Linked DNA regions of Homo sapiens. The protein of the gene in region 1 purifies or fractionates together with the protein of each later gene. This does not show direct contact. Each region holds a gene or a part of one and is shown on either strand. Other genes may lie near its edges.

What was found.
Region 2: the proteins of PDE4DIP (region 1) and PRKACA purify together in Homo sapiens (affinity purification with mass spectrometry; 5 studies listed by BioGRID and IntAct, with this or other methods). This does not show direct contact.
Region 3: the proteins of PDE4DIP (region 1) and PRKAR2B purify together in Homo sapiens (affinity purification with mass spectrometry; 6 studies listed by BioGRID and IntAct, with this or other methods). This does not show direct contact.
Region 4: the proteins of PDE4DIP (region 1) and CDK5RAP2 purify together in Homo sapiens (affinity purification with mass spectrometry; 4 studies listed by BioGRID and IntAct, with this or other methods). This does not show direct contact.

Annotation. Positions count from the first base shown.
Region 1 is NC_000001.11:149,001,405-149,008,427, forward strand, and holds part of PDE4DIP (myomegalin), read left to right. Parts: intron 1-186; coding exon 187-622; intron 623-1,445; coding exon 1,446-1,638; intron 1,639-2,206; coding exon 2,207-2,326; intron 2,327-3,504; coding exon 3,505-4,033; intron 4,034-5,796; coding exon 5,797-6,032; intron 6,033-7,023. UniProt on the Homo sapiens protein: Functions as an anchor sequestering components of the cAMP-dependent pathway to Golgi and/or centrosomes.
Region 2 is NC_000019.10:14,093,752-14,100,774, reverse strand, and holds part of PRKACA (cAMP-dependent protein kinase catalytic subunit alpha), read left to right. Parts: intron 1-2,884; coding exon 2,885-3,011; intron 3,012-3,100; coding exon 3,101-3,196; intron 3,197-3,291; coding exon 3,292-3,414; intron 3,415-6,982; coding exon 6,983-7,023.
Region 3 is NC_000007.14:107,039,785-107,047,708, forward strand, and holds the start of PRKAR2B (cAMP-dependent protein kinase type II-beta regulatory subunit), read left to right. Parts: upstream 1-4,920; 5' UTR 4,921-5,123; coding exon 5,124-5,430; intron 5,431-7,924. UniProt on the Homo sapiens protein: Regulatory subunit of the cAMP-dependent protein kinases involved in cAMP signaling in cells. Type II regulatory chains mediate membrane association by binding to anchoring proteins, including the MAP2 kinase.
Region 4 is NC_000009.12:120,388,359-120,395,174, reverse strand, and holds the end of CDK5RAP2 (CDK5 regulatory subunit-associated protein 2), read left to right. Parts: intron 1-536; coding exon 537-663; intron 664-5,387; coding exon 5,388-5,434; intron 5,435-5,882; coding exon 5,883-5,939; 3' UTR 5,940-6,300; downstream 6,301-6,816. UniProt on the Homo sapiens protein: Potential regulator of CDK5 activity via its interaction with CDK5R1. Negative regulator of centriole disengagement (licensing) which maintains centriole engagement and cohesion. Involved in regulation of mitotic spindle orientation.

The DNA.
Region 1 (7,023 bases):
AGTCTCTTACTTTTCCTGAGCCTTGGCTTTCTTGTATATAAAATTAGGGGGCTGTGGTAGGTCTCAGGTTGCTTCATGCTCTGGGGTAAGTCTGAGTTAATTGCGGGCTGAGATGTTGGTAAGAGGTAGTATTAGGAACTGTTGTGAGGACCAGACCTAGCCCTCAATTAAGTGTGTTTCCTGCAGGAACACCATGCTGAGCCTTTGCCTTGAGAATGCGGAGCTGAAAGAGCAGATGGGAGAAGCAATGTCTGATGGATGGGAGATCGAGGAAGACAAGGAGAAGGGCGAGGTGATGGTTGAGACTGTGGTAACCAAAGAGGGTCTGAGTGAGAGTAGCCTTCAGGCTGAGTTCAGAAAGCTCCAGGGAAAACTGAAGAATGCCCACAATATCATCAACCTCCTCAAAGAACAACTTGTGCTGAGTAGCAAGGAAGGGAATAGTAAACTTACTCCAGAGCTCCTTGTGCATCTGACCAGCACCATTGAAAGAATAAACACAGAACTGGTTGGTTCCCCTGGGAAGCACCAACACCAAGAGGAGGGGAATGTGACTGTGAGGCCTTTCCCCAGACCCCAGAGCCTTGACCTTGGGGCTACCTTCACAGTGGATGCCCACCAAGTAAGTGTGGGCTTAGATTGAGTGAAAAACAATTGGAGAAGGGCTTGAGATGACAGTGTTTACCTTAAAACATTCTCCCATATGAATCAGGAGGTACCAAGAGAAGGGTCTCTTTGTACCACAAACAATAATAGTAATATTCTGCCTACATTCAGCCTTTAGAAAGGCTTTTATAACATAAATATTTCTTGAGTACTTAATTTTTCAGATAACACACTAGGCATTGGCATGGGGCAATAAAACCAATGGCTGCCCCTGAGATACTTAATATTGTCGGGAAAGATGGCACACAAACAGGTAATTTTAACAGGATGTGGTAACTGCTGTAACATAGGGATGCATCAGGTTATGAGGCAGCCCAGACAAGTGGTATGTAATGACATCCCTTATCACTGCCATTTTTTTGTCACAGCTCATCACAGGTGTCTGTTCCTGGGCTTCAGATGGGTTACTGGGATCCTCTTTAGGGAAGGAGCCATGCTGAAGATTCAGTGAAATGGAGAATACAGGGATTCTGAGAGAATCAATGGGACAGAATGTGAGGGGAGATGAGTGGTCTCTTTTTGACCACTGAGAAAACATTTCCTGAGAGCTCCTCTGTAGACTTGATTGGTGCTGTGCTGTGTGCTGTGGATACAGATATGAAGAAAACATTATCCCAGCGCTCCAGGAGCTCCATCTGGAAAGCAAGTCACTGCCAAATGGCATGAGAAGTGCTGTGACAGACTTGAGTAAAGTCCACAGGGTTCAGAAGGGGCGGTGGTCGTCACTGCATGGGGGTGACCTCAGACTGTCCTGATCCCTGTATTGGCCCCTTTCACAGTTGGATAACCAGTCCCAGCCTCGTGACCCTGGGCCTCAGTCAGCGTTTAGCCTACCAGGGTCCACCCAGCACCTGCGCTCCCAGCTGTCACAATGCAAACAACGCTATCAAGATCTCCAGGAGAAGCTGCTGCTATCAGAAGCCACTGTCTTTGCTCAGGCTAACGAGCTGGAGAAATACAGAGTTATGCTTAGTAAGTAACTATGACTTACTAGTAAAGAAAACTAGCCTATATGTCTTATAAGTTCTGTATGTTCTATACCGACATAACGTGGTTATTGAGCACACGAAGTGTGGCTAGTGCAACTTGGACATTTGGTTTTATTTAATTTTAGTTGATGTAGTATAAAGTGGCCATATGTGGCTGCTAACTACCTTATTGGACAGTACAGGTCTAGGGTCTTGGGACTCTAAATTAGTTCAGCTCCATTCAACATTTATTGAACCCCTGCGGATAAAGCACTTGCCAGCTTCAATGGGGCTGCTAGAGATGATAGTGTACAATCCCTGACTTACAGATATCTGGTCCCAACTAAAGCCTGGGTTATCTGAAGGGGAGATAATGGCAAATGCAGGCTCCTCCTTTGGAAAGAAATTCTGCTTCCTGGAGCTGGTGATCTCTTCTCCCACCAGTTCAGAGAAGCTTCTCTCCCACTGTGGATCTGCCTTCCGTGCCTCAAAAGGTTAGGGTATGTGCCATTGAGGCTGAGGGCATATGTGGGAAATTCAGACATTCTGTAACACCTGCTTCTCTTCCCAAGCAGGTGAATCCTTGGTGAAGCAGGACAGCAAGCAGATCCAGGTGGACCTCCAGGACCTGGGCTATGAGACTTGTGGCCGAAGCGAGAATGAGGCTGAACGGGAGGAAACCACCAGTCCTGGTAAGAGCACAGGGTGTGGGGCTCACCCCTCCCTGGAGTCAGCTGTCACATTTGGATGCTGTTGGCCAATTCCACACCTGACAAGTATTGGGGAAGAGGAGGACAGGAGGTTAATAGGAGAAATCTTACCCAAAATGAGGCTGAGTATAAGTTTGAATTTCTACAATTAGTTTTTGGCATACTGCTAATAACAATAATAATATAAAATTCTATCCAACTGATTATTATAGAAATACTAAGGCCTACTTAGAGACCAGATAAGGTTTTAGAAACATGCAAGCCATAAATTAAAAATAATTTTGTTTTGCATTATAAAAAGACTACAACTATAGGGCCACCCACCACATTGAAAACCAGAAGAGAAGAAAAACACAATCTCTCTCATTCTTGAGGCAGTGTAGTGTGGCAGTTAAGAGACAAGATCCTGGGGCCAGACTGGTTGGTTCAAATCCCAGTTTGAAAACTTTCCTATGTCCCAGTTTCTTCATGTGTTAAAATAGTAATAAAGGAACTACCTACCCCATCAGGTACTAAGGTCAATTAAATGAGTAAATTCTTATAAAATGCTTTAGAACAGTGCCTGGCATCTGGTAAAATGCCATGGATTAGTTCTCATTCTGACTACCACTGCCCTAATACACTGATGTTAACATGCTGATATATTTATTTGAAGCCTTATTTTCCTATGCCTATTTTTCATACAGTTGTAACCCAATAAACTTTTAAATTATAGTAAAATTTAAAGAGCATTAAACTTTCAGCATGCAGTAATAGCTTGTCCTACATTCTTGTGGCCATCCTAAATAGATAAGGCCATGTTAATGTCTTAAGAAACACCAGTGTGTGTGGAATGAACACAGGACATTGGAGGATTTGAATTCTGGCTCTGCCATGTGCTAGTTTGAGTGATCTAGAACAAGCTAGTTTACCACCTCTCTTTAAGTTTTGGTTTCCCAGTCAGTAAAATAGAAAGTGATGAAACCTAACTTGTAGGTATAAGGAAGATAAGAAATATTGTATTTGAATGCCTAGTACAGTGTCAGGGTTGAATAAAGTACTACTTCAACTTTTTCCCTAGTAATTATTGTCCTCATGACCAAACCTGCCTCCTCTCAAAGGCAGTGGCCACAACAGCACATCCAACTTTTATTTAGGAAGACATCTTTGTCTTTTTTCAGAGTGTGAGGAGCACAACAGCCTCAAGGAAATGGTCCTGATGGAGGGGCTGTGCTCTGAGCAGGGACGCCGGGGCTCAACACTGGCTAGTTCCTCTGAGAGGAAGCCCTTGGAGAACCAGCTAGGGAAGCAGGAAGAGTTCCGGGTATATGGAAAGTCAGAAAACATCTTGGTCCTACGAAAGGACATCAAAGATCTGAAGGCCCAGCTGCAGAATGCCAACAAGGTCATTCAAAACCTCAAGAGCCGGGTCCGGTCCCTCTCAGTTACAAGTGATTATTCGTCTAGTCTGGAAAGACCCCGGAAGCTGAGAGCTGTTGGCACCTTGGAGGGGTCTTCACCTCATAGTGTCCCTGATGAGGATGAGGGGTGGCTGTCTGATGGCACTGGGGCTTTCTACTCTCCAGGGCTTCAGGCCAAAAAGGACCTGGAGAGTCTCATCCAGAGAGTATCCCAGCTGGAGGCCCAGCTCCCAAAAAATGGACTAGAAGAGAAGCTGGCTGAGGAGCTGAGATCAGCCTCGTGGCCTGGGTAAGGATGGCACTGTTTGGGTACTTTCTTGATTGAAAATGTGTAAGTTCATGCTTGGCGTAGGGTAGCTCAGGCAGTTGGAAGAAAGAACATGTCTGGGTATTCACAGGGACACTGATTTAAATGGTAGATACAGGTCTGCAGAAAAGACAGGTAGGCAACCAGGAGGGCATAGGATGATGTTCCAGTATCTGGGAGATACCGGGTCTCAGGGATTTCCTCTTAGGGATATATTAGTAAAGATGGTATAGTATAGTAGTAATACTGGAATCAGACTACCTACCTCTGGTGCTTACTACCCATGCAACCTTCTTAACCTTTCTGAGCCTTTGTCCTTACCTATTAAATGAGGATGATAAGAGAACCCATCTCAAAGGGTGGATATTAGGTTTAAATGAATTAATACAACTGCTGACCAGGCGTGGTGGCTCATGCCTGTAATCCCAGCACTTTGGGAGGCCAAGGCAGGTAGAACACCTGAGGTCAGGTGTTCGAGACCAGCCTACCCAACACGGTGAAACCCCATCTCTACTAAAAATACAAAGATTAGCTGGGCATGGTGGTGCACACCTGTAATCCCAGCTATTCGGGAGGCTGAGGCAGGAGAATCGCTTGAACCTGGCAGGTGGAGGTTGCAGTGAGCCGAGATGGCACCACTGCACTCCAGCCTGGGTGACAGAGCAAGAGTCTGTCTCGGAAAAAAAAAAAAAAGAATTAATACAAGTGCTTAGAATAGTGCCTAGCATATGTTAAGCTCTCAATGCTATTTGCCATAGTTATAAGTGTTATTGATACTTAGTGTTGAAAACACAGACATTCATCTTGGTGTGTCCTGGTTATCTATTGCTAAGTAATAACCACTCTAAAACTTAGTGACTTCAAACAACACTTTATTATGCTTCATGGTTCTATGGTTTGACTGGGCTCAGCTGGGTGGTTCTCACTTAGGGTCTCTTGTTTTGGGTCCCATCAGTTGATGGTATGAGCGTTTAAATGATGGCCATCATTGCAAAATGTAGTCAGCCACAGTATCGTAACATAGAAGAAATTCAGGCATCAGGTGGTGGTTAAAACAGAAGGCATGAAAGGTTCTATCTAGACTTAGGATGAAATGATGCTAATTATTCATTGAGTAACTGCTGTGAATCTATGTGATACTGGTGCTGTAAGGGATGTAAAATGCAGAACTATGTTTATTCTCACAGACCTTATGATTTATCTAGGGACATATAATTAACACATGTATAACAGTTGAAGAACAGTGACATACTAAATTTTTTTTTGATACGGAGTCACTCTGTCATCCAGGCTGGAGTGCAGTGGTGCCGTCTTGGCTAACTACAACCTCCACCTCCTAGGTTCAAGCAATTCTCCTGCCTCAGCCTCCCGAGTAGCTGGGATTACAGGCATGTGCCACTATGCTCAGCTCATTTTTTTTGTATTTTTAGTAGAGGCAGGGTTTCACCATATTGGCGAGGCTGGTCTCAAACTCCTGACCTTGTGATCTGCCTGCCTTGGCCTCCCAAAGTGCTGGGATTACAGGCGTGAGCTACCACGCCCGGCCCGTACTAAGTTTTTTAATGCAATACTTTATCAGGGTAGAATTTACTCTTAAATACCTCCTATGGCTTATGTGCCAGAATTCAGCTTGGGGGAGTTCCTTAGAGATGTTCTCATAGAAATCTCTACAGAAGCCCCCATAACTCCATAAGTTAGCTTCCACTCTTTCCATACTTACACTTTCCTCTTCTGTCCTGCATTAGGAAATATGATTCCCTGATTCAGGATCAGGCCCGGGAACTGTCTTACCTACGGCAAAAAATACGAGAAGGGAGAGGTATTTGTTATCTTATCACCCGGCATGCAAAAGATACAGTAAAATCTTTTGAGGATCTCCTAAGGAGCAATGACATTGACTACTACCTGGGACAGAGCTTCCGGGAGCAACTCGCCCAGGGAAGCCAGCTGACAGAGAGGCTCACCAGCAAACTCAGCACCAGTAAGTTGGCCACAGGGCTTTGGAATACTCTCAGTCACCCCCACAGTTCCAGCCCCTGGTGGCCACCACATCTCCACTGCAACTTTTTATCCTAAGGTCCTGTTTCTATTTCATTTCCTGGGGCTAATACAGGATCAAGACTGCTCAGTGGGGAGCATGGAGAGGAAAACACAGGGCTGGAGATGCCATGGTTACAACTATAGAAACTTCACCACTAATGGAATGTGACCTGTGGGGCAGGGGCAGCATCTCTCTGATGCTAAGAGGGAGTAGGGGACATGAGATGGAAGGGCTTTGTTATAGGAGGAAGAGCCCTGAACCAAGAACTACAAGACTCAAGCTCTGGCCTGGATGCTGCCACCAACTCGCTAAATGCCTTATCCTTGTGGTGTCTCCATTTATGGCATGGTAATGTGCATGCAGGTACTCCACATATGGATAAAGCGCCATGCTCTTTTATACATGGTTTAGGCACTGGCTGCAGTAGTTCAAGGGCTACATTGGTTATTATTGGGGTCTTCTACTCAGAATTTCCAGCGACTATCCAAGGGAGTAAAGTAGGATCAGACTTGGGAGCCACCCAGCCCACCACCTGGTGGCAGATGCAGAGGTGGGGCAGGGCTTCTTGTCATCTCCTCAGAGACCAGTGCAGGTTCTGCATGAAAGCTGTGGTGGGGCATATGCATTGGGGAGCTAGTCTGCAGCAGGACATGGAGGCTGGAGTGTCCCGCAGGGCAGCTGGGCAAGGGCCTCATGATTAATGGAACAAAAGACATTATAAATGTTTTACCCTGATTTAGGGCAGAGGAAGTCATCATGGTGACCGGCAGGTCAGGGACAGTGGGGTCACTTCTCTAGAGACACAAGCTGAGGTATCCCAGAATAACTGTTCTGGATGCACACATGAAATGCTCACTACTCTGTCTCCAGATAGGCTCCTGCATTTGTAATGCGGGAAGTGGGACCAGCCTAATTTCTTATCGTCTCTTTC
Region 2 (7,023 bases), on another chromosome or scaffold:
CAGTGCACGACCAAGCCCCCTGGGAATGCAGAGGAGTCCAGCATACTTCAACATGCAGGTGGTCTCCCAGACCCTGTGGGTTTCTGTTTCCCCTCTGCTGAGGAATATGTGATATTTCAACCACCACAAAACAAAACAGAGCAAACAGGGCAACTTAGGTGTCCAAACTGAAGTTGCTGCCAGGCACGGTGGTTCTCACCAGTAATCCCAGCACTTTGGGAGGCCAAGGTGGGCAGATCACCTGAGGTCAGGAGTTTGAGACCAGCCTGGCCAACATGGCAAAACCCTGTCTCCACTAAAAATACAAAACTGAGCTGGGCATGGTGGTGGGCACCTGTAATCCCAGCTACTTGGGAGGCTGAGGCAGGAGAATCACTTGAACCCAGGAGACAGAGGTTGCAGTGAGCCAAGATCACACCACTGTACTCCAGCCTGGGTGAGAGAGTGACATGCCGTCTCAAAAAAAAAAATTGAAGTTGTTGATTTTGTGCATTTTTTGAGCCCCAAAAGGTGGCATGCATCTGTAGTCCCACTAGTCCTGAGGCTGAGGTGAGAAGATCATTTGAGCTCAAGAATTTGAGACCAGCCTGGGCTGCATAGTGAGGTTTTGTCTCTTTTAAAAAAAAAAAATTGGCTGGGCGCAGTGGCTCGTGCCTGTAATCCTAGAACTTTGGGAGGCCGAGGCGGGCGGATCACGAGGTCAGGAGATCAAGACCATCCTGGTTAACATGGTGAAACCCCGTCTCTACTAAAAAAATACAAAAAAATTAGCCGGGTGTGATGGCGGGCGCCTATAGTCCCAGCTACTCGGGAGGCTGAGGCAGAATGGCGTGAACCCGGGAGGCGGAGTTTGCAGTGAGCCGAGATCGCGCCACTGCACTTCCAGCCTGGGTGACAGAGCGAGACTCCGTCTCAAAAAAATAAAATAAAAATTATACTATTATTTTATTTTATATAGGTGGACAGTTTTATATGTGTAGATTTTAATATATATTTTTATACATAAAATAAATCTATATACAGAAATTTGTAAGTTTAAGATACAGGCTGGGTACTGTGGCTCATGCCCTATAATCCCACTTGGGGAGGCCAAGGTGGGCAGATTGCTAGAGCCCAGGAATTTGAGACCAGCCTTACATAGCAAGACCCCATCTCTACAAAAAAATACAAAAAAAAAAAAAAAAAGTCAGGTGTGGTGGCACATTCCTGTAGTCCCAGCTCCTGGGGAGGCTGAGGTGGGAAGATCACCTGAGTCTGGGAGGTCAAGACTGCATGAGCCCACCTTCATCCCTAGGATGCAAGGCTGGTTCAACATATGCAAAAAAAAAAAAAGACTGCATAAGCCGTGATCACGCTGCTGCAGTCCAGACTGGGTTGTAACCCAGTCAGACCCTGCTGAAAGAAAAAAAAAATTTTTAACTTATAAATTTGTCTTATTAACTTATAAGTTTACATACGTAGTTTTATTTGATTTTATTTTTTGAGACAGAGTTTCACTCTTGTCACCCAGGCTGGAGTGCAGTGGCACGATCTCGGCTCCATGCAAACTCTGCCTCCCGGGTTCAAGTGATTCTCTTGTCTCAGCCTCCCAAGTAGCTGGGACTACAGGTGCATGCCCCCTTGCCTGGCTAATTTTTGTATTTTTAGTAGAGATGGGGTTTCACCATGTTGGCCAGGCTGGTCTCGAACTCCTGACCTCAGGTGATCCGCCCCCCCCGCCTTGGCCTCTCAAGATGCTGGGATTACAGGCATGGGCCACCGCGCTGGCCTTGTAGTTGTATTTTAGATAGATAACTATAGATTCACTTTACATACAACAAAATGCACAGTTCTTCAATGTTCCATGCTACAAGTTTTGACAGTTGTATATAGCTACCTAACCTCCACCCAAAACAGTATATGGAACTTTTCTATCACCTAAGAAAATTCCCTTGAATCCCTTTTTTTTTTTTTTTTTTTTCCAATAACATACAGAGGTGGAGGCCGGGTGCCATGGCTCACGCCTGTAATCCCAGCACTTTGGGAGGCCGAGGCGGGCGAATCACAAGGTCAGGAGTTCGAGACCAGCCTGACCAACATGGTGAAACCCCGTCTCTACTAAAAATATAAAAATTAGCCGGGCGTGGTGGTGCACACCTGTAATCCCAGCTACTCAGGAGGCTGAGGCAAGAGAATCACTTGTTTCCAGGAGGCAAAGGTTGCAGTGAGCCGAGATTATGCCATTGCACTCCAGCCTGGGCAAGAGAGCGAGACTGTCTTAAAAAAAATAAATTAATCAAAAAAAAATATATATATATATATACACACACACACACATATCTACATACATACAGAGGTGAGGTCTTGCCTATATTGCCCAGGCTGGTCTCGAACTCCTGGGCTCAAGCGATCTTCCCACCTCGACCCCCCAAAATGCTGGGATTACAGGGGTGAGCCACCGCACCGGGCCGAATCCCTCTCTTGACACGTCACCTCCCCACCAAAGGCAGTTGTCCTTTCTGACTTCAAACACCGTGCCTTTGTTTTGTCTGGGCGTGGACATGATATAAATGGAATCATTCATGTTCTTTTGTGTCTTCTTTTGCTTAACATAATCAGTTTGAAATGCAGCCACATTGTTGAGTGGATGCATGGGCTGTCCTGTTGGCGGTGGTGGTGGTGAGTGGAATTCCATTGTATGACTATAGCTCAGTCTGTGATTCCATTTTCCTGTGGATGGACCCACAGGCTGTTTCCCATGTCGGGCTATCTAAGAATCAGGTGCCTTGCGTTTCTGACGGCTGGACTGGAGGTGTCTTCCTCTGGGGTAGGCTCTGCAGGGCCACCTGCTGGACCATTTTGGGGCATGACCACTGACGTTCACCTCCCCATTTGTCCCCATCAGTGAGCCCCATGCCCGTTTCTACGCGGCCCAGATCGTCCTGACCTTTGAGTATCTGCACTCGCTGGATCTCATCTACAGGGACCTGAAGCCGGAGAATCTGCTCATTGACCAGCAGGGCTACATTCAGGTGCCCACCAGGCCGGGCGAGGGGCAGCCCTGGGGAAGCCGTGGCCTGGACCCTTCCTCCCTGCCAACTGCCTGTTCTTGTGCCCACAGGTGACAGACTTCGGTTTCGCCAAGCGCGTGAAGGGCCGCACTTGGACCTTGTGCGGCACCCCTGAGTACCTGGCCCCTGAGATTATCCTGAGCAAAGTAGGAGCCTCCCCAGCCCTCCCCTTCCCCTGAGGCCGGCTCTGCTCTCCTGCTCTCGCCTCCTCCTCACCCTGTGCCCCCCCATCTTGCTCCAGGGCTACAACAAGGCCGTGGACTGGTGGGCCCTGGGGGTTCTTATCTATGAAATGGCCGCTGGCTACCCGCCCTTCTTCGCAGACCAGCCCATCCAGATCTATGAGAAGATCGTCTCTGGGAAGGTGAGGTCCGGATGTGGGGACACAGCCCTGGAAGAAACAGACCGTTCCCTGCTCACCCATCCTATTCCCTGGGGAGCCCTGCTTGTTGTCAGAATAATCTAGAAGTTCCTTAAGTCAGGCCAGGTGGTGAAGCTGGACGCGCCGGCCACACTGAGGCCAACACCTCAAGCCCCCTTGCTGTCCAGCCCCAACCCCGCGGTTCCAGAATCCCATGGGCTTCCAAAATCCCGAGCCTCACGGGAACATCTTGGCCACAGAACACAAACCGCCCTGCCAGACGACCCTCCTTTTCGCTCCTCATCCCAGTTAGTGTGAGTTTTCGCAAATTCCAAGGCAGAAAAACGAATGTATTTGGTTCCTGTTCCCAGGTGCTGTCCATAGCCTCACCCAGGATTGCCCTCACTTAGCATTTATAGCCCATGCTTCCTCTCCCAAACCCAGACTTGCCTAACTCTGAGGGTTCAGATGAGGGGTGGTGAAGCCATCTCAGCTCACATCTATGACAGGTGCAAAGTGCCCACCATCCACCAGGCCCCAGAATCCCCATCAGTCACACCCTGAGATAGTGGCACCCTCTGTAGGAGAGGTGAGGAAACAGGCTGGGAAAAGGGATGTGTCTTGGCCAAGATCACACTTTGGTGAGTAGGTAATCACCGTAGGCAATCATTGTAGGCACTGATGGCCGGAGAGAGGTTGGGGACCCCACCTCTGCCCTCAGCTCAACCACCTTGCTGGGAAGACCCGACCATCCCCCGACTTGGTCCAGCATCTCCTACACAGGAGCTTTTGGTTGGCCCGGAGTCATGACACTGTGGTGGGAGCACCCTCAGGCTCAGCCTGGGCCCCAGTCCCAGCTCTGCCACCGACTGGCTTTGAAACTTTGGGGCTGGGTACAATGGCTCACACCTGTAATGCCAGCACCTTGGGAAGTGGAGGCTTGAGGCCAGGAGTTCCAGACCAGCCTGGGCAACATAGCCAGACCCCATCTCTAAAAAAAAAAAAAAAAAAACAAACTGGCCGGGCGCGGTGGCTTACACCTGTAATCCCAGCACTGTGGGAAGCCAAGGCGGGCAGATCACCTGAGGTCGGGAGTTCGAGACCAGCCTGACTAACATGGTGAAACTCCGTCTCTACTAAAAACACACACAAAAAAAATTAGCTGGGTATAGTGGTGGGCGCCTGTAATCCCAGCTACTTGGGAGGCTGAGGCAGGAGAATCACTTGAACCCAGGAGGCGGAGGTTGCAGTGAGCCAAGATCACACCATTGTACTCCAGCCTGGGCAACAGGGCAGGACTCTGTCTCAAAAAAAAAAAAAAAAAAAAAAAACTAAAAATTAGCTGGGCGTGATGGTGCACCCCTGTGTTCCCAGCTCATCGGGAGGGTGAGGCAGGAGGATCGCTTGAGCCCAGAAGTGAGCTGTGAGCTGTGATTGCATCACTGCAGTCTAGCCTGGGTCACAGAGCCAGACCCTGTCTTTTAAAAAAATTCAGGCAAGTGGGGTGCCCCAGCTGGACACATAGCATCACTAAAAGAGAAAGATGAAGGCCAGGCGCGGTGGCTCACACCTATAATCCCAGCATTTTGGGAGGCCAAGGCAGGTGGATCACGAGGTCAGGAGTTCAAGACCAGCCTGGCTAACATGGTGAAACCCTGTCTCTACTAAAAATACAAAAATTAGCTGGGCGTGGTGGCGGGTGCCTGTAATCCCAGCTACTCGGGAGGCTGAGGCAGAGAACTGCTTGAACCCGGGAGACAGAGGTTGTAGTGAGCCGAGATTGCGCCACTGCACTTCAGCCTGGGTGACAGAGCAAGACTCTGTCTCAAAAAAAGGGAAAGATGAGGCATCTGCCACCGGACCAAAAGAAACTGCCAAGAAAATGGCCCAGAGTTGGCCGGGTGTGGTGGCTCACGCCTGTAATCCCAGCACTTTGGGAGGCCGAGGCGGGCGGATCACGAGGTCAGGAGTTTAAGACCAGCCTGACCAACATGGTGAAACCCCGTCTCTACTAAAAATACAAAAATTAGCCGGATATGGTGGCACACACCTGTAATCCCAGCTACTCAGGAGTCTGAGGCAGGAGAATCACTTGAAACCGGGAGGCAGAGGTTGCAGTGAGCTGAGATTGTGCCACTGCACTCCAGCCTGGGCAACAGAGCAAGACTCCATCTCAAAAAAAAAAAAGAAAAAAAGAAAAAAAAATGTCCCAGAGTGGGAAAAAAAAGAAAGAAAAAAACACAGAAGATCCCACAGGAGAAGATGCACATGACTCCCTTCTTTGTAGCATTTTCTAGTTCCCCCGCACCGTCAGTGGTATTATCTCCCTCGTGCAGCCCTGGCATATCTGCCCCACATCTGAGAGGCATGCGCAGGCCCAGAGAGGTTAAGGGCCATGGCCAAGGTCACACAGCGTGTAAGAGGCACAGCAGGAACAAGAAGTCGTTTCTTGCAACTATAACTCCAGTGATGACTTGCATACAAGGCGTGGGCTCAGAGGGTTTGGGGAAAACTTTCAAGAAGAGTTGAGCTGGGCTTTAAAGAACGGAAGAGCCTTAGCTATGCAGAAAGAGAGGAGAGAAAAAGTTTGTCATAAGCAAGAATATTTCAGAAGTCTCCAGACCCCAGCAGAGATGCCTTAAGCAGCAGCAGCAGCAGCTGAGAATGCAAGTTCTAGAGTCCAGTAGACCTGAGATGGAATTGCCCCATCACACACCTCAATGTGACCTAGGAAGAGCTGTTTAACCCAAGCCTCAGTTTCCCCTTCTCTGAAATGGAAATCATCATAGCACTTGCCTTAGAGCAATGGTTCTTAAAAGGGACCCCTTTCCAGCAGCACCATTGCTGGGGAATTTGTTAGAAATGCAGATTCTTGGGCCAGGCACGGTGGCTCACACCTGTAATCCCAACACTTTGGGAGGCCAAGGCAGGTGGATCACCTAAGGTCAAGAGTTCAAGACCAGCCTGACCAATATGGTGAAACCCCGTCTCTACTAAAAATACAAAAATTAGCCAGGTGTCTTGGCGTGAGCCTGTAATCCCAGCTACTCAGGAGGCTGAGACAGGAGAATTCCTTGAACCCAGGAGGCGGAGGTTGCAGTGAGCCCAGATCGCACCACTGCACTCCAGCCTGGGCTACAGAGTGAGGCTATTTTTTTTTTTTTTTTTTTTTTTTTTTCAAAAAAAGAAATGCAGATTCTTGCTGGGTGTGGTGGCTCACGCCTATAATCCTAGCACTTTGGGAGGCCAAAGCAGGAGGATCGCTTGAGCCTAGAAGTTCAAGACCAGCCTGGGCAACGTAGTGAGACCCTGTCTCTACAAAAACTTCTTAAAATAACTAACTCTTGAATTTTTAAAGTTTTTAAAGAAATGCAGATTCTCAGGCCACAGTATCAGACTTCCTAAATTGGAAACTGTAGGGTAGGCTCAAGGAGCTGTTTTACAAGATGCTGGCAGGCACTCTGCTTTGGAGGCCCACACCCAGTAGGACCGTTGGATGGAGAAAGAAGCATCATGGGCTTCCCAAGTTCCAGACCAGCTTCCCACCCTGTCCTTGTACCCCTTCCTCCAGGTGCGCTTCCCTTCCCACTTCAGCTCTGACTTGAAGGACCT
Region 3 (7,924 bases), on another chromosome or scaffold:
GGGTCTGTTTAATTTCCTGGTGTGAAAACAAATTTGATAGCACTCTTTTCATTTCAATGCTGAGCTCTCAGAGTTCATTTGCCATTGCTTCCAGTCTGATTCTCTGAGAAACTGGTGCAAATTGCTTTGCAAATCCACAACCAAAGAATCAGTATCAGTGATGCTCTTTTAAGGAATATGAGATACATAGTTCCCATAAGCCACTGTTCAAAAGGCTCAAAATGAAATATTCTGAAAATGAAAGCAAAAGAAATCATAAAATATTACCAAAAAGGTTATGTGGTAGTGAATAAAAGCCAGAATATGATTTGAGAAGTGAACATTTGTTCTGAGAACAATGCTAATGTAATGGGAATATCAGGACCAAGCTTTACTTTTTCAGGTCATGGTTATTGATTTAAGAACTGATGCAAATGAAAATTACCAAAGAGCTGTTTGCAAAGATGTTTCAAGTCCAATAAGTCTTGTTTTAGTATTATACTATTGTAAATCTCTCAGGATGAAAAAGACTATATAGGTCATCTAATCCAATTACGCATTTCATGCTTGAAATCATTGCTATATTCTTAAAGAAATGAGAACCACACAACCTTGGCATTGTGGTTGATGACAGAGAGCTATCTACCATGCTTCATATAATAAATCTACAAGAAGAAATAAATGAATTTGGAAACACAAAATGGCATTAACAAGATATGGCTCTTAATAATGTTTGGAAAAGTAGTGCTTTTTTTAATTTTGTCATTCCTAGGGAAAAGGTATTAGACATTGTGGCAGAGATTGATAATTATCTCCAGACTTTTTTTTTTTTTTTTTTTTTTTGAGACAAGGTCTTACTCTATCACCCAGGCCGGAGTACAGTGGCACAACCACAGCTCACTGCAGCCTTGACCTCCCTGGGCTCAGGCGCTTATCCCACCTCAGCCTCCCGAACAGTTACGACCACATGTATACCACCAAGCCTGGCCAATTTTTGTATTTTTTTATAGAGATGGAGTCTCCCTATGTTGCCCAGGCTGGTCTCGAACCCCTGGGCTCAAGCGATCCACCCTCTTTGGCCCTCCAAAGTGTTGGGATTACAGGAGTGAGCCACTGTGCCCGTCCAGACTTGGTTCTTTTTAATTCCCAAATGTTTACTTGGCACGTGACTGCTCAAAATAAATATTACATTTCCAAACTTTCCTAATAGCCATTGGTTTCAGTTGCTATTGCTGTGTAACAGATTATCTCAAAACCTAGAGGCCTACAACAACCTTTTTATTATGCTCACAGATTCTGTGGAACAAGGCTTCAGCCAGGGCATCCAGTACAGGGCTGGCTTCTTCTATCATGCTGACTTGACTTTTACAATGTTCTATTGGTCAAAGAAATCACAAGCACATTCAGATTCAAGGGGAGGGGAAATAAGACTTCAATTCATTAGTGAGTAGTGGCCACGCCACACTGTAGGAGATATTGTTGTAGCCGTCTTTGGAAAATGCAATTTGCCACACCAAAGGTGTGGCCATGTTGACTAAGTTCTAGCCAAGAGGATAGAAGAGGAATTGTGTTTAACTTCCTAGAAGGAAGGGAGGGGAGGGGAGCTTCCCTTCTCTTTTTCACTTTCCTCTTAGCTAAAATATGACTGGCCCTGGAGCAGCCATTTTGGACCACAGACAGGATCATAGAGCAATGAGCTGGAGGGAGCCTGGGTCCCTGATGATCATGGAGTACCACACTGTGTCCGGAATTGGTGGGTTCTTGGTCTCACTGACTTCAAGAATGAAGCCGCAGACCCTCGCGGTGAGTGTTACGGTTCTTAAAAGTGGCGTGTCCAGAGTTTGTTCCTTCTGATGTTCGGATGTGTTCGGAGTTTCTTCCTTCTGGTGGGTTCGTGGTCTCACTGGCTCAGGAGTGAAGCTGCGGACCTTCGCGGTGAGTGTTACAGCTCTTAAGGCGGCGCATCTGGAGTTCCTCCCGGTGGGCTCGTGGTCTCGCTGGCTTCAGGAGTGAAGCTGCAGACCTTCATGGTGAGTGTTACAGCTCATAAAGGCAGTGTGGACGCAAAGAGTGAGCAGTAGCAAGATTTATTGCAAAGAGCAAAAGAACAAAGCTTCCACACTGTGGAAGGGGACCCGAGCTGGTTGCCACCACTGGCTCAGGCAGCCTCCTTTTATTCTCTTATCTGGCCCCACACACATCCTGCTGATTGGTAGAGCCCAGTGGTCTGTTTTGACAGGGCACTGATTGGTGTGTTTACAATCCCTGAGCTAGACACAAAGGTTCTCCATGTCCCACCAGATTAGCTAGATACAGAGGGTCCACACAAAGGATCTCCACGTCCCCACCAGAATAGCTAGATACAGAGTGGCGATTAGTGCATTCACAAACCCTGAGCTAGACACAGGGTGCTGATTGGTGTGTTTACAAACCTTGAGCTAGATACATAGTGCCGATTGGTGTATTTACAATCCCTTAGCTAGACACAAAGGTTCTCCACGTCCCCACCAGACTCAGGAGCCCAGCTGGCTTCACCCAGTGGATCCCGCACTGGGGCTGCAGGTGGAGCTGCCTGCCAGTCCCGCGCTGTGCGCCTGCGCTCCTCAGCCCTTGGGTGGTCGATGGGACTGGGCGCCGTGAAGCAGGGGGCGGCGGTCGTCGGGGAGGCTCGGGCCGCACAGGAGCCCACGGAGTGGGGGGGAGGCTCAGGCATGGCGGGCTGCAGGTCCCGAGCCCTGCCCCGCGGGAAGGCAGCTAAGGCCTGCGAGAAATTGAGCACAGCAGCTGCTAGCCCAGGTGCTAAGCCCCTGACTGCCCGGGGCCGGTGGGTCCGGCCGGCCGCTCCGAGTGCGGGGTCTGCCGAGCCCACGCCCACCCGGAACTCGCGCTGGCCCACAAGCACCACGCGCAGCCCCAGTTCCCGTCCGCGCCTCTCCCTCCACACCTCCCCGCAAGCTGAGGGAGCTGGCTCAGGCCTTGGCCAGCCCAGAAAGGGGCTCCCACAGTGCAGCGGCAGGCTGAAGGGCTCCTCAAGCGCTGCCAAAGTGGGAGCCCAGGTAGAGGAGGCGCCAAGAGCGAGTGCGGGCTGTGAGGACTGCCAGCACGCTATCACCTCTCAATACCAACTCTGAACTGCCCACATTTAGATTCCAGAGAAATAAATCTTAAGCTATTGTATTTCGCATTTTCTGCCACATGTGAGCAGTGTTTATCATAATTAATACAAATATTATCACAAATTTAGACAGGTGATACACATGCATCTTAGATTACCAGATCCGTAAAAATAATAATGCTTACACGGTAGAGAGTAGTACTAACATTGTGCTCCAACCGGTGACATGTGAGGCTCACCATATTTTATAAAAGTTTAATTCTTTTTTTTTTTTTTTGAGACGAAGTCTCACTCTTGTCCCCCAGCCTGGAGTGCAACGGCACTGCACGATCTCGGTTGACTGCAACCTCCGCCTCCTGGATTCAAGCGATTCTTCTGCCTAAGCCTCCTGAGTAGCTGGGATTACAGGTGCCTGCCACCATGCCCGCTAATTTTTGTATTTTTAGTAGAGATGGGGTTTCACCATGTTGGCCAGGCTGGTCTTGAACTCCTGACCTCAGGTGATCCGCCCACCTCGGCCTCTCAAAGTGTTGGGATTACAGGCATGAGTGAGCCACTGCGCCCGGCCAAAAGTTTAATTCTTAAAATGCTCGACACAATTAGAAGCACTTAACTACTGTATATTTAAAGCAACGTAACATTATTACTATAAAGTTGTTAAGAAATGAAAATAGAGAAATACATTGGCTCATGGAGTCAATACAGGATGCATCATTAACAAAGGGTTAACATCAAGATCCATTTTTACAAGAGGGACTAGTTCGTTACATCTCTGATTTCTAGACTTGGAGTTTCCCCAGTCATGTGTTTACTCTTCCGTGGGTGGGAAGATAAATCAGAATAACCAAGTGAGCTTGCTCTTGAAATATTTTATTTACAATGATATGATAATTGTAGAAAATGAAGTATGCGTACTTAAATAGAATTTAATTGACAAAAGACAATTTTCTCTACTTCAAAATTGTAAACATTTGCAAAGTAAGCCTCATTTCAAAGTCAAAGCCTTCTACTTTAAAAGCACACATTAGTAATTCTATTTTTCTTTATACTGAAGTATTTCAATTTTTGGACATACAAGTCAAAAATCATTCAAAGCATAAAGGAAAGTTTCAAAATAATAAGCGCCTCATCCTGCACTATCCTATTTAAAAGAGATCAACTAACTTTGATAGGTGCCTCTCAATAAATGGTGCCTTTGTCTCAATAAATAGTAAATGCGTGGAGTGCACAACGGAATAGCATCAGTAAGACGAAACATAATAAACAGGATGGATCGGGAAAGGCTGGATAAAATGTGGGGAAGAAAAAGAAAGACGTCACAAAGATGGGGTAGCATTTCTTTGTCCAAAAGAGAACCAGTACCACCATAAGACTTTAAACAAAGGACATTAGCAACACTTATCATGCAACTAGATTCTAGAAGGAAAATAAAATGCCACTACTAAGGTGGAGGCTGAAGTTTCAAGACAAATCTCCTGGCACCACCTCTGCGGGGGTTCACCATGGCGAATGACGCCTGGGAAGCGGGGCGAGTGGCCAGCCCGCTCCTGGACGCGCGGACAGGTGGACACGAAGGCGGCCTCGCTGGGCCTCCCTCCGCCTCTCCCGGCCCGGGCGCGCAGCCCTGCGGTGGTCTGACAGGCGGGTGCGCGGCGCCAGCCAGCGGAGGTTGCCATGGTTTCCGGGGGTCACGTGGGCGCGCTCTCCTGCGCCCCCTCCCGCGCACCGCGGCGGGGCGGGGGCGGGGCGCCCGGGCGGGGGAGAGGCGCGGCCGCGGCTGGAGCGGGAGGAGCAGGAGATGCTGCCAGCCCTCCCGGGGCCGCGCTCGCTCAGCCGCCGCCACCACACGGAGCAGACGCGCGCCGGGAGCCGCGGGCCGGGCCAGCCGGGCCGCCGGGGCCCAGTGCGCCGCGCTCGCAGCCGGTAGCGCGCCAGCGCCGTAGGCGCTCGCTCGGCAGCCGCGGGGCCCTAGGCCGTGCCGGGGAGGGGGCGAGGGCGGCGCCCAGGCGCCTGCCGCCCCGGAGGCAGGATGAGCATCGAGATCCCGGCGGGACTGACGGAGCTGCTGCAGGGCTTCACGGTGGAGGTGCTGAGGCACCAGCCCGCGGACCTGCTGGAGTTCGCGCTGCAGCACTTCACCCGCCTGCAGCAGGAGAACGAGCGCAAAGGCACCGCGCGCTTCGGCCATGAGGGCAGGACCTGGGGGGACCTGGGCGCCGCTGCCGGGGGCGGCACCCCCAGCAAGGGGGTCAACTTCGCCGAGGAGCCCATGCAGTCCGACTCCGAGGACGGGGAGGAGGAGGAGGCGGCGCCCGCGGACGCAGGGGCGTTCAATGGTGAGGACCAGACCCCCCACTTCGCGCCCCCGGATCCCCTCGCTGCCCCCCACCGCTCCCCGCTGTGCTCTCGGATCTTGCCGCTTTGCGCACCCACCTCTCCCCGCATTCTCCACCTTTCCCTACCTTCCCATCTCGCCCACCCCCTCAGCATCCATTTCTGTCTCTCCCACTCGCCCACCTTCCTACTCCGCTCTCTGTCATACCCTCTTCCCTTCCTCTAGAGGTGGGAGAGCTGGGATGTTACGCTTCCCTCTTACCCTTTGCCCCCTCTGCCTGGGCCGGTTGGGGTGGGCATCTGCTAGAAAGACAACTTTCGCTGTGGTTGGAGGTATTTCGCTTAGAGGATACCATTGTGCATAAAGAAACTGGCCCGCTTGGCGTCTTCTTTCAGCCCTTGTATTTATTAATGGAATGTCGAAAGAGAAAAGGAGAACCGTGTTTAATATGATTGGCTTTACTGTTGTTAGGACGGTAGATTCGCTAAAAGAAGCATGAAATTGGACTCACTGGGGCAGAACAAAATTTATGGCCAGTAGCTCTGACATTCTTGGAAATAAGAGTTATCTATTATTTTCCAATTTACCAATACCGTGTTGTGTTATTTTTGGACACGTAACAAAGGATTCTATTTAGTCTGAAACCCACGGGGGTCTTTGGAACGAGGAAATGGGTTAATGGTTTGCTTTTTATATAAAAGACATATTGAATGATTTGGTGCTTTATTTTTTTAAAAGTGTATGAGAAAAACACTGTAGGAAGTTCTGAAAGCTTGTTGGTTGTCTTTAGAATGAAAAGCCAGTGAGTAATTGTAAGGATTGTGCCAGACAGTAGAGCTAGAAAGAATGAATGGGAAAGAAAAAGGAATTTTCTCAAATAGCTGCTCCTGGCAAGTCCCACCCCTTCTGCTTACAACCCTCTTTCCCTAACACACCCAGACACACACCCTCATTTACAGCCCCTTGTATTACACAACATGCCCAAATCTCATTTTTATGGCAACCCAAGCTAAAATACCATGGAGTGCAGTGTGCAAGTGTTTTCTCTTTGTGGTGTAAGGCAAACATGCATGCAGCATTGCACCAGCTTTTATTTATTTACACTGCTTGTGGTTTGTGTGTCCGCAGTGTATTTCATAAAATGAAAACATTTAAAAGTGTCATTTCATTTCCTTGTGTATGCTCCTAGGAAGATGTTTCTTTTCTTTGCAGGATTACATGTTGAAATGGATTATAAAATTAGTGTATTTTTAGTTTCTCCAAAAGAATCCCAGAAACCCTGGAAATTAGTGCGCTGTGAAGATAAAAGTGAAGCTTGTTACTTACAATTTTAATTTTGGACTTCTAAATGTTTCCCCAAGAGGATAAACATAGTCTTAATAATTCTTTTTGCACAAGAATCGAATCAAAAGCTTTTCCTACCAGAAACGAGAAAGAGAAAAGAATGCATGTTTTAAATAGGTAAGAAGCAGCAGCCAGTAACGGATGACAGAAAGGGCAGAGATATCTAATACTTCTTTTATGCTCCTGACATGTTCGTGCACACACACAAAGGGGAAAAAAAGGACTCTTTTCCCAGGTTGGAGAAAACTAGGAACTAAGGGGCTTGGTAAAGACCATATATATATATATATTCTGTATGATATGTTGTTAATATAATCAAAATATTTTGTTTGTATAATGCATTTGTTGAAGTACTTTGCATTGATGATTGCATTTTCTCCTTATAACAATATATTGCGCACAGAAAAGATTCCATTTTCATTTTGTAGTGAAGAAATAAGCCGTTAACTTCTGAACAGCAGGGGTCATTTTATATGGCTTTATATTCTCCAAGGCACCTTTGCTGTAAAAATTGCTCAGTGTGACTTAAACAAGTTAAACTTGTTAAACAATTGCACTATTTACTCCCTAGCCTCACCCCCAAGGACTTTAAAACTTTTTGACTGCAACCAAATACAATTTGATCATTATCCAGGAGGCACATACATCTGTATAACAGAAACTTTGGCAATAGTACAGGTACTTCCTTCTGTCAGATGCAGTGCTTTTTGATATTTCCTATTTGAATCAGTTATTTCTCCCTATTTTAAATTGTATTGAGACCTCCAGTTGAAAAACATTTAATTATAGGCTACAAAGTGATTGGCAAGGTTTCTTGTAAAGGGCCGGTTAGTAAGTGTTTTAGACTTAGGGCAACATGTGGTCTTGATCACTTCTTCTTCAGTTTTTTTTTTTAAACACATACACCTTCTGAGGGTTGCGGTTGTACAAAATTAGCTGCAGATCAAGGCCATAGCTTGCCGACCCCTGGTTAGAAGAAAAAAAAAAAAGTCAAAATAGTACCATTGGGGGAAAAAACAGGAGTGATCCTAAAAAGTATGAGCCTATCAGTTTGACATCTATGTCCAGAAATGTGTCTCATTAGAAAAGAACCCCAGATACTGGGCAATTCTGGCATAGTAAAGAATAAGGATTGGAAAACAAGTCTTAAT
Region 4 (6,816 bases), on another chromosome or scaffold:
TCTGGGCTCTTTTGTCACTAACTGTGATCATTTTTTGATATCAATGCATAGAGCTCTACAACGTCATTTTTAATAGTTGCTAAATTATTGTATTATATGTAAGTACCATAATTTATCCAGATCTATACTGAAATCAGGTTATTTTTTCCTACCATGAACAATGCTGAGACGAACATCCTTGTACATAGGCATCTTCTTGTGCTTATGTTATTATTCCTTGGGGGAAATGCCAGCGTGTAGAATTGCTGGGGCAAAGAGTTAAGCGCATCTCAGTTTGGTAGATCTTGCCAGGGCGTTCTCACTGGGCCATGCCATCCCGCACTTCCACCAGAGGTCACGAGGTGCTTTCCCCTTACCCTCAATGAGTTTTGTCCAATTTTGCCTTTTCCTGGTTGTCAGGAAAAGGCTTCTAGTTTCCATTCAAATATTTTTGCTAGTGAGGTTGAGCATCATCTTTTTATATGGCTTTGTAATTCTTCCTGTGTAACATGATGTTTATGTTCTTTGTTCATTTTTCTAATTTCTCTTCTCTTTAGATTGGAGAAATGAAGGCAGAGGTCACCAAACTACATAAAAAATTGTTTGAACAAGAAAAGAAGTTGCAAAACACCATGAAGCTTTTGCAGCTGAGCAAGCGCCAGGAAAAAGTCATCTTTGATCAATGTGAGTGAGTGTGGGGGTGGCCGCTATGCCTGACCACTTCCTGCCTCCGAGGGCTCCCAGTTCTGCCCTGGATTACCCACTTTGGAGCCCAGATGGTTTGTAATCATGCCTCCTATCTGTGGGCTTCTTTTCATACTCCATCCTTTCTGACTCACATAGACAAATGTATTCACTTAACACACCTTTGTAGAGCGGCCTTTTGGTGTCAGGGACTGTCGTCTCACTGGGAGACAGTCGTGTGGCATGTGCAGTGATGGGAACATGCAGAGCACTGGGGTGGGAGTTGGGTGGCCGTCACTCTGTCCCGGCAAGGTGGGCGTCTTAGACAAAGTGACCACCTCGCTGAGTGTGAAATGAAAGCAGACGTCGTCACATGGAGCGGGGAGTGGCAGTCCCTCAGGGAAGAGCATGGACAGAGGCACAAAGGCAGGAAATAAGTTTTTGTATGTGAGAAACCAAAACCAGTCCCTGTGGGGTAAAGGCTGCAAACAGTGAATTAAGGTGGGAGGGATTGGGGGTCAGGGAGTACTTCATGAAAGACTGTAGGTGGCAGGCTCAGGGCAGAGGATTGGCCTGTCACATCTGTGTGCAAGAATGGCTCGCTGGTGGCTGCTCCACCAGTGAGGGGGAGGCTGACTCACTAGTCAGACAGGAAAGGTGGCTAGGACGCTGGGGATCCAGAGGAGGGCATGGATTTGAGAAATACTTCTCAAGGCAGATGCCGAGACTCAGGGTTGGTGAGGTTAAGTAACTTTTGTAAGGTCAGTCCCAGTTCTGATCTAGCCACTTTGGAGATTGTTTGGGAGCAGCTCTGTCTCCTGGTTTAAACCCTCAGCACTCCCTCCCGCTGCATTTAGAGGAGCAGGCGGTAGCTGAGTTTCCATTAGTGCCTGTTGGCAACATGGCCCTGGCCAAGCCTGCGCTGTCTGTGTGTCAGTTTCCCTGTCTTAAGAGAACTGCTGACTGCAGCACTTTTTCTCTGGAGGTGCCAGCCTGCCTTGTGCGGCTCTCCTGTCAAAGTCCAACATTTCTGGGGCATTTCTGAGAAGCACAGGACAGAGATTATTGCCAAGTAGGAGTTCTCCTTAGCCACCCCTGGGAACCTTCTGAAAATAGACTCTGTGAGACTGCCAGTGTTTGGACTGCAAAAGAGAGGAGCGCAGCCACTGAGCAGGCACTGAGTTCCTGTTCTTTGCCCCTTACGCCAGGTCCTGGGGACAGAGATGAACGAGACAGTCTTTGCCAGTGAGGGTCGTGGGCTTAATAGGGGAGACACAGAGCTTAGCTGCAGGACGATGTGCTGAGTGCATCCTAGGAGGCCTGAGAGGTGGTTCAAGACTGACTGGGTCTTGAAGAATGACTAGGAATTTGTCAGCGAAGGGGCAGGAATAGGATTCTGGCAGATGGCCCTGTGGACTTGCTGGTGTGCTCCCAGGGGTGAGAGAGAACTGAGTGCTCAGGGACATGCTTAGGACGTGCAAAGGGTTTTCCTCTGAGAGATGAGTGAGAGGGAGAAGCAGGAACCAGGTTGCAAGGAGCCTTGTGGACAGGACTCCAGGACGAGCAGCAGGGACCGGCGGGGTCCATGCGTGTATTACAAGATCCCATGGCTGAGCTTGGAGGGGCCAGGAGGCCGGGAAGACCTCTTTGGGGGCTGCAGCAGTCCCCCAGGTGGGCAGTGGGTCAGGACTGTGGGGGAGAAGGGATGGTTTTGAAAGATTGTAAGGAGGTCAACCTGGCAGAGTGGTGGATGTCTGTGGGGTTCTGGTTGAGGGTTTCGTGTCACTCGTAGAGAAAAAGAGCACTGAGGGGAACCTGGAGAGAGACAGTGCCAGCTGTGGTCCTGTTAAGGCAGCTGTGGAATATTTAGGTTAGACTCTTGGAGCAGCAGTGGGGTGGGGAGCAATGCTCTGCATAGGTCTAGAGAAAGGCAGAACTCTCTGCATTGGCATCTCTCCTCCTCAGCAGCCTTTGGCCCTGAACAGTCACAGGGCAGGTAGCTAACCCTATTGACAGGTGAGAAAATTGCAGAAGTAGGTTTCGATGGGTTGAGTACTGTGGTCGGTCAAAAGGACAGAACTAGAACCCAGATCCCCTGTGTCCTAGGTCAGAGAACATGGAATTATTGATTGAGCACAGTTCAGATCTCCATTCTCCTATGTGACCTGCATTAGACTAGAACCCTAAGCTTTCGATTCCTCATCTCTAACTGGAGACGTGAGTTCCAAAGGACTCAGACTAACTAGTTGGTCCCGGGTTCAATAGCAACTTTATAAAAAGCACCCCAGTTTTCTCATCTGTAAAATAAGGATGATAACGCTACCTAAACTGTATTGTACTTAGCACAGTCTCGGGGGCAGAGGAGATGCTCAACCAGTCCCTCCTCTTTCTTTCCATTAGGCCAGACCAAATCCTATGCATGGAGGTGGCAAATCATTCATAGTAAGAAGAGCCGCAAATGTCTCATAGCACTTCCCCTCCTGAGCTGGTATTGTCCATCTCCATATCTCCTAGGCCTGGCACAGAGCAGGCTCCGCCAGAGCAGGGTGAGGGGCTTGCTCCAGGCAGCATAGCTGGTGGCTGACCCGGGCCTGCAACTCCTCCTTTGCCAGGCTCTGCAGCTCATCCCAAGGAGTCAGGTCCTTGGAAATTCTCCAAGCCCTGCGGACTTCACAGACCTGCTCTGGGTCTAAAGGGACTAGGAGAAAGTTGGCATAGCACCTCCTCTTCCTCCGTCCCCTCATGGTGATGGGGAAGAGCAAAGGCCAGGGCTGATTGCTACCTGGTCAAACTGACACCATACCTTCTCAGAGTCTACAGGGGAAAGTAAGGAAAAGGCATCCCAGTGGGACCCTAAGAGTCCTGATGCCCTGGGGCCACTCACTGGCCATGTGACCTGGAACCAGCTGCCTCAGGTCCTCATTTGCAAAGCGAGGACAGTAGTTCTGCCCCATAGGGTGGGGGAGTATTCAGTGAGGCCACCGTTGGAAACCACCTGTCACCAGGTCAACACTGCTCAGCTCAGGTCGGTACCTTCTTCCCAGCACTCTGCTGAGGTGGGAAGAACCATGGACTGAGTTGGGCAGGCCCACATGTGAGTCCCAGCTCTGTGCTGGGGCCAGTCTAGATTTGGGACGAGTCCTTTGTCGCTGTGTTCCTCGGTCTTCTCCTTGCAGTGGGGATTTCTGTGCTTTGGAACGTGGCAGTGCTGTTGAGGTGTAGGGGTCCCCTCAAAGCTTGAGCCAAGTGATCCTTAGTTCTTCTGCCATGAGCTTTGTTCTCTAGGGACATGGAGTGCTCTTTCACAATCATCTTCAACCTCCACAGCTGTGATACTTAATCTTTTCTGGGTCTCAGGCCCCTTGGTGAATCTGGAGAAAGCTGTGGTCTCTCTGTGGAAAAATGCGGACGTCCAGATACATACCCCCATTTGCACACAGTGTCGGAGGGTTTAGGACTGACCCCCCAAACATATCCAGGGCCCCATGTCAGGAACTTTGCCCTGCAGCAGGAGGTCAGGTTGGGGTAGAGGGGCAGTGGCCACCTCTGAAAGTCGTTTTGCTTGGCTAAAAACAAAGTCCACACCGTCTGTCCCGTCCCCAGTGTCACAGATTGCAAATAAACTCCATTACCTCCAGATGGAAATTTTCGTGAGGCAAGAAATCAATATTTTCTCAAGGCCACCACACGACAGACACCTATTCTGAAGAAGCCACTGGGGAGTCAGGCTATGTGTGTTGGGCGTTGAGTCTGTTACAGCCTCTGGCACTGTTGGCTAAAGGCGCGGCTCCAGAAGCCTTTGGTATTTCCAACGTGGGGAGTAAGCTGATCTTACTCTCACCAAGCCCTGTTGAGAACAGATTCCCTATCAGGCTCAGAACTCTGATCAAGAGGGGCATTCTTGCCACTGCTGGAGTTTGTGTTGGACAAGAAAAAGCCTGAAGGAAGACCCACCTTTACAGTTGCTCCTGAAAGCCAGGGCTCGCCTGCCCCTCCTGGGAATTCTCATGCACGGGGGATCTTTCTAGTACAGTGCTCCGGGCGTCAGTGTCAGCAGGGACCTCTGAAACCATCCCACCCAACCAGCTCTTGTCCAGGCAGAATGTGACTTGCCCAGAGGAATCAGGCTGGGCTATTCCACCAGCTAAAGGGCAGGCAAAGGAGAAGCAGCATGCCCACGGTTTTTTCTTCCAGGCCATTTGGAGCTGGCTCTAAGAGCTGCTGGGTAAAAACCTGGCTTCGTAGAACTTGGACCCTCATATGTGGGTCTGCCTGATCGGGGCACAGTCCCTTCCCACAGCTGCTTCCCAGAGGGCCTAGGAAACTAAAGAGTGCTGGGCAGGCCCAGGCCTCTACCCTCCCTGCGCCATTGCCCTCCCTGGCCCACAGAAGTGAGCCTGAGGGATACCTGGACAGCCAGGTGGCCGTGCACAGCTGTAGGGTGTTCTCTGAACCGGCATAGCATGCTGTAGCCTCTGCATCACTGTCAGGTGGTGGCTTAGCGGGGCCTCAAAGAGGTGTTGTTGATGCGTTATTTGGCCCTGGGGTTTGTGATGGGTCAGGTGGGCCCTTTGTACCTCCCTCTGGTCTGGATGCTTCAGACCTCGTGTTGTCTACATGTCCGAGCCCTTTGGGGTGGGGTTCATCCTCCCTGCACTTGGCTTTCACACAGCTCTCCTGGATATCCATGGCCCTAATCATTGCATTCTTTGCTCTCTCCTCAGTGGTCGTAACCCACAAAATCCTTCGGAAGGCCAGAGGAAACCTGGAGGTATGCCCTTTGAGTCTTTTCACTGCAGGCCAGTGGAAGGTCAGGAGGAGTGCAGGGCCAGAAAGGACCTCTTGAAAAATGAAGGTGCAGGTGGAACCAGGGGACATGTCCTCCTCAGAGAGTTGTTTCTGCCAGCAGTGCATGAAAAGTTGTGTTTTATCATGCCCTGTCGCCAGTAGGGGTTCTAAGTTTTAAATTTGTATGCTATTTTTACCAGTAAGAAATACAGCAAACAATGCTTGACACATAGTAGGCATTTGATGAATATTTCTTGAATGAATGAATACAGTATGATCTCATCGTTGTTTATTAGGTAAATATTTACTGACCAAACTATGTTTTTGAAAGCACTTTGAGAATAACAGTCTCGCTTTCACCTCTGTCGGGGTCTTACTTCAGAAACCTCCTTTGGACTTAAAATTCTCCTTTTTTTTCTTCCTTTTCCTAGCTTAGGCCTGGGGGAGCCCATCCAGGAACATGCAGTCCCAGCAGACCAGGCTCCTGAGAAGAACTTTCAGCCAATAAAGCTTGTGCTTCCCCCACCGAGCTCACGCTGTCTCTTTGTTCCAAGTGTGGTTCCTATTTATTGAGGAAGAAAGAGCTGTCTGGCCAAAGGAAATCTATTTTTTCCCTTCATGTTTTCTCTCTGAAAGTTGGCTTGAGAGTTGTTGTCAGAAAGGTGCAGGTGCTCCACAAACGGGTGGTAAAAAGGCCTCGAGCTCTTGGATGTTGTATTTCAGATCAGGGGCAGGCACCGGAGTTGAGGCTGTGCGCCTTGGTGGGCTTCACGTCTTCCCCTGGATTTGCTTAGTACTCAGCCAGTGCCACAGTTTGAAGATTCTCATTAAATGATTCATTTCATTTCACCTTGACGATTCTGTTGTTTTGTGTGGCGCCTCAAAGCCCAGGTCCCAAAATCCCAAGTGGGACAGGCCAGGGTTCCACGAGTCGCATGGCTCACTGCTGAGCTCGTTCAAGTGTCCAGAGAAGAGCACCTCCGTGCAGCGTGGCCATGGGCACTGGTGTGTGCTCAGCATCTCACAGTCTGCTGGACAGCAGCCCTTGCAGTGGTGCCATTCCCGATTTAGCAAAGAGCAGAGTGAGGCCCAGAGCTGGAATGTGGCATTTGCATTGTTCCCGTGATGACAGGGGTGTGTCATCAGCCATCCACATCGCTGCCTCTGACCAAGATGCCCCCAGCCAAAACACTTTAGCGGCTTCCCACTACCCTCTGATCCAAGCCCGAGCCCCTAACAAGGTTTACAAGCCTTGCTGGCACCTCCAGCTCCTTGCCCATCTCGCCTCCTCCCGCTCCACTCTGTGTTCCAGGCAAACGGAACAGTGTTCTCCCCAGTCTAACCCAGGCTGCGCCCTCTTGGACA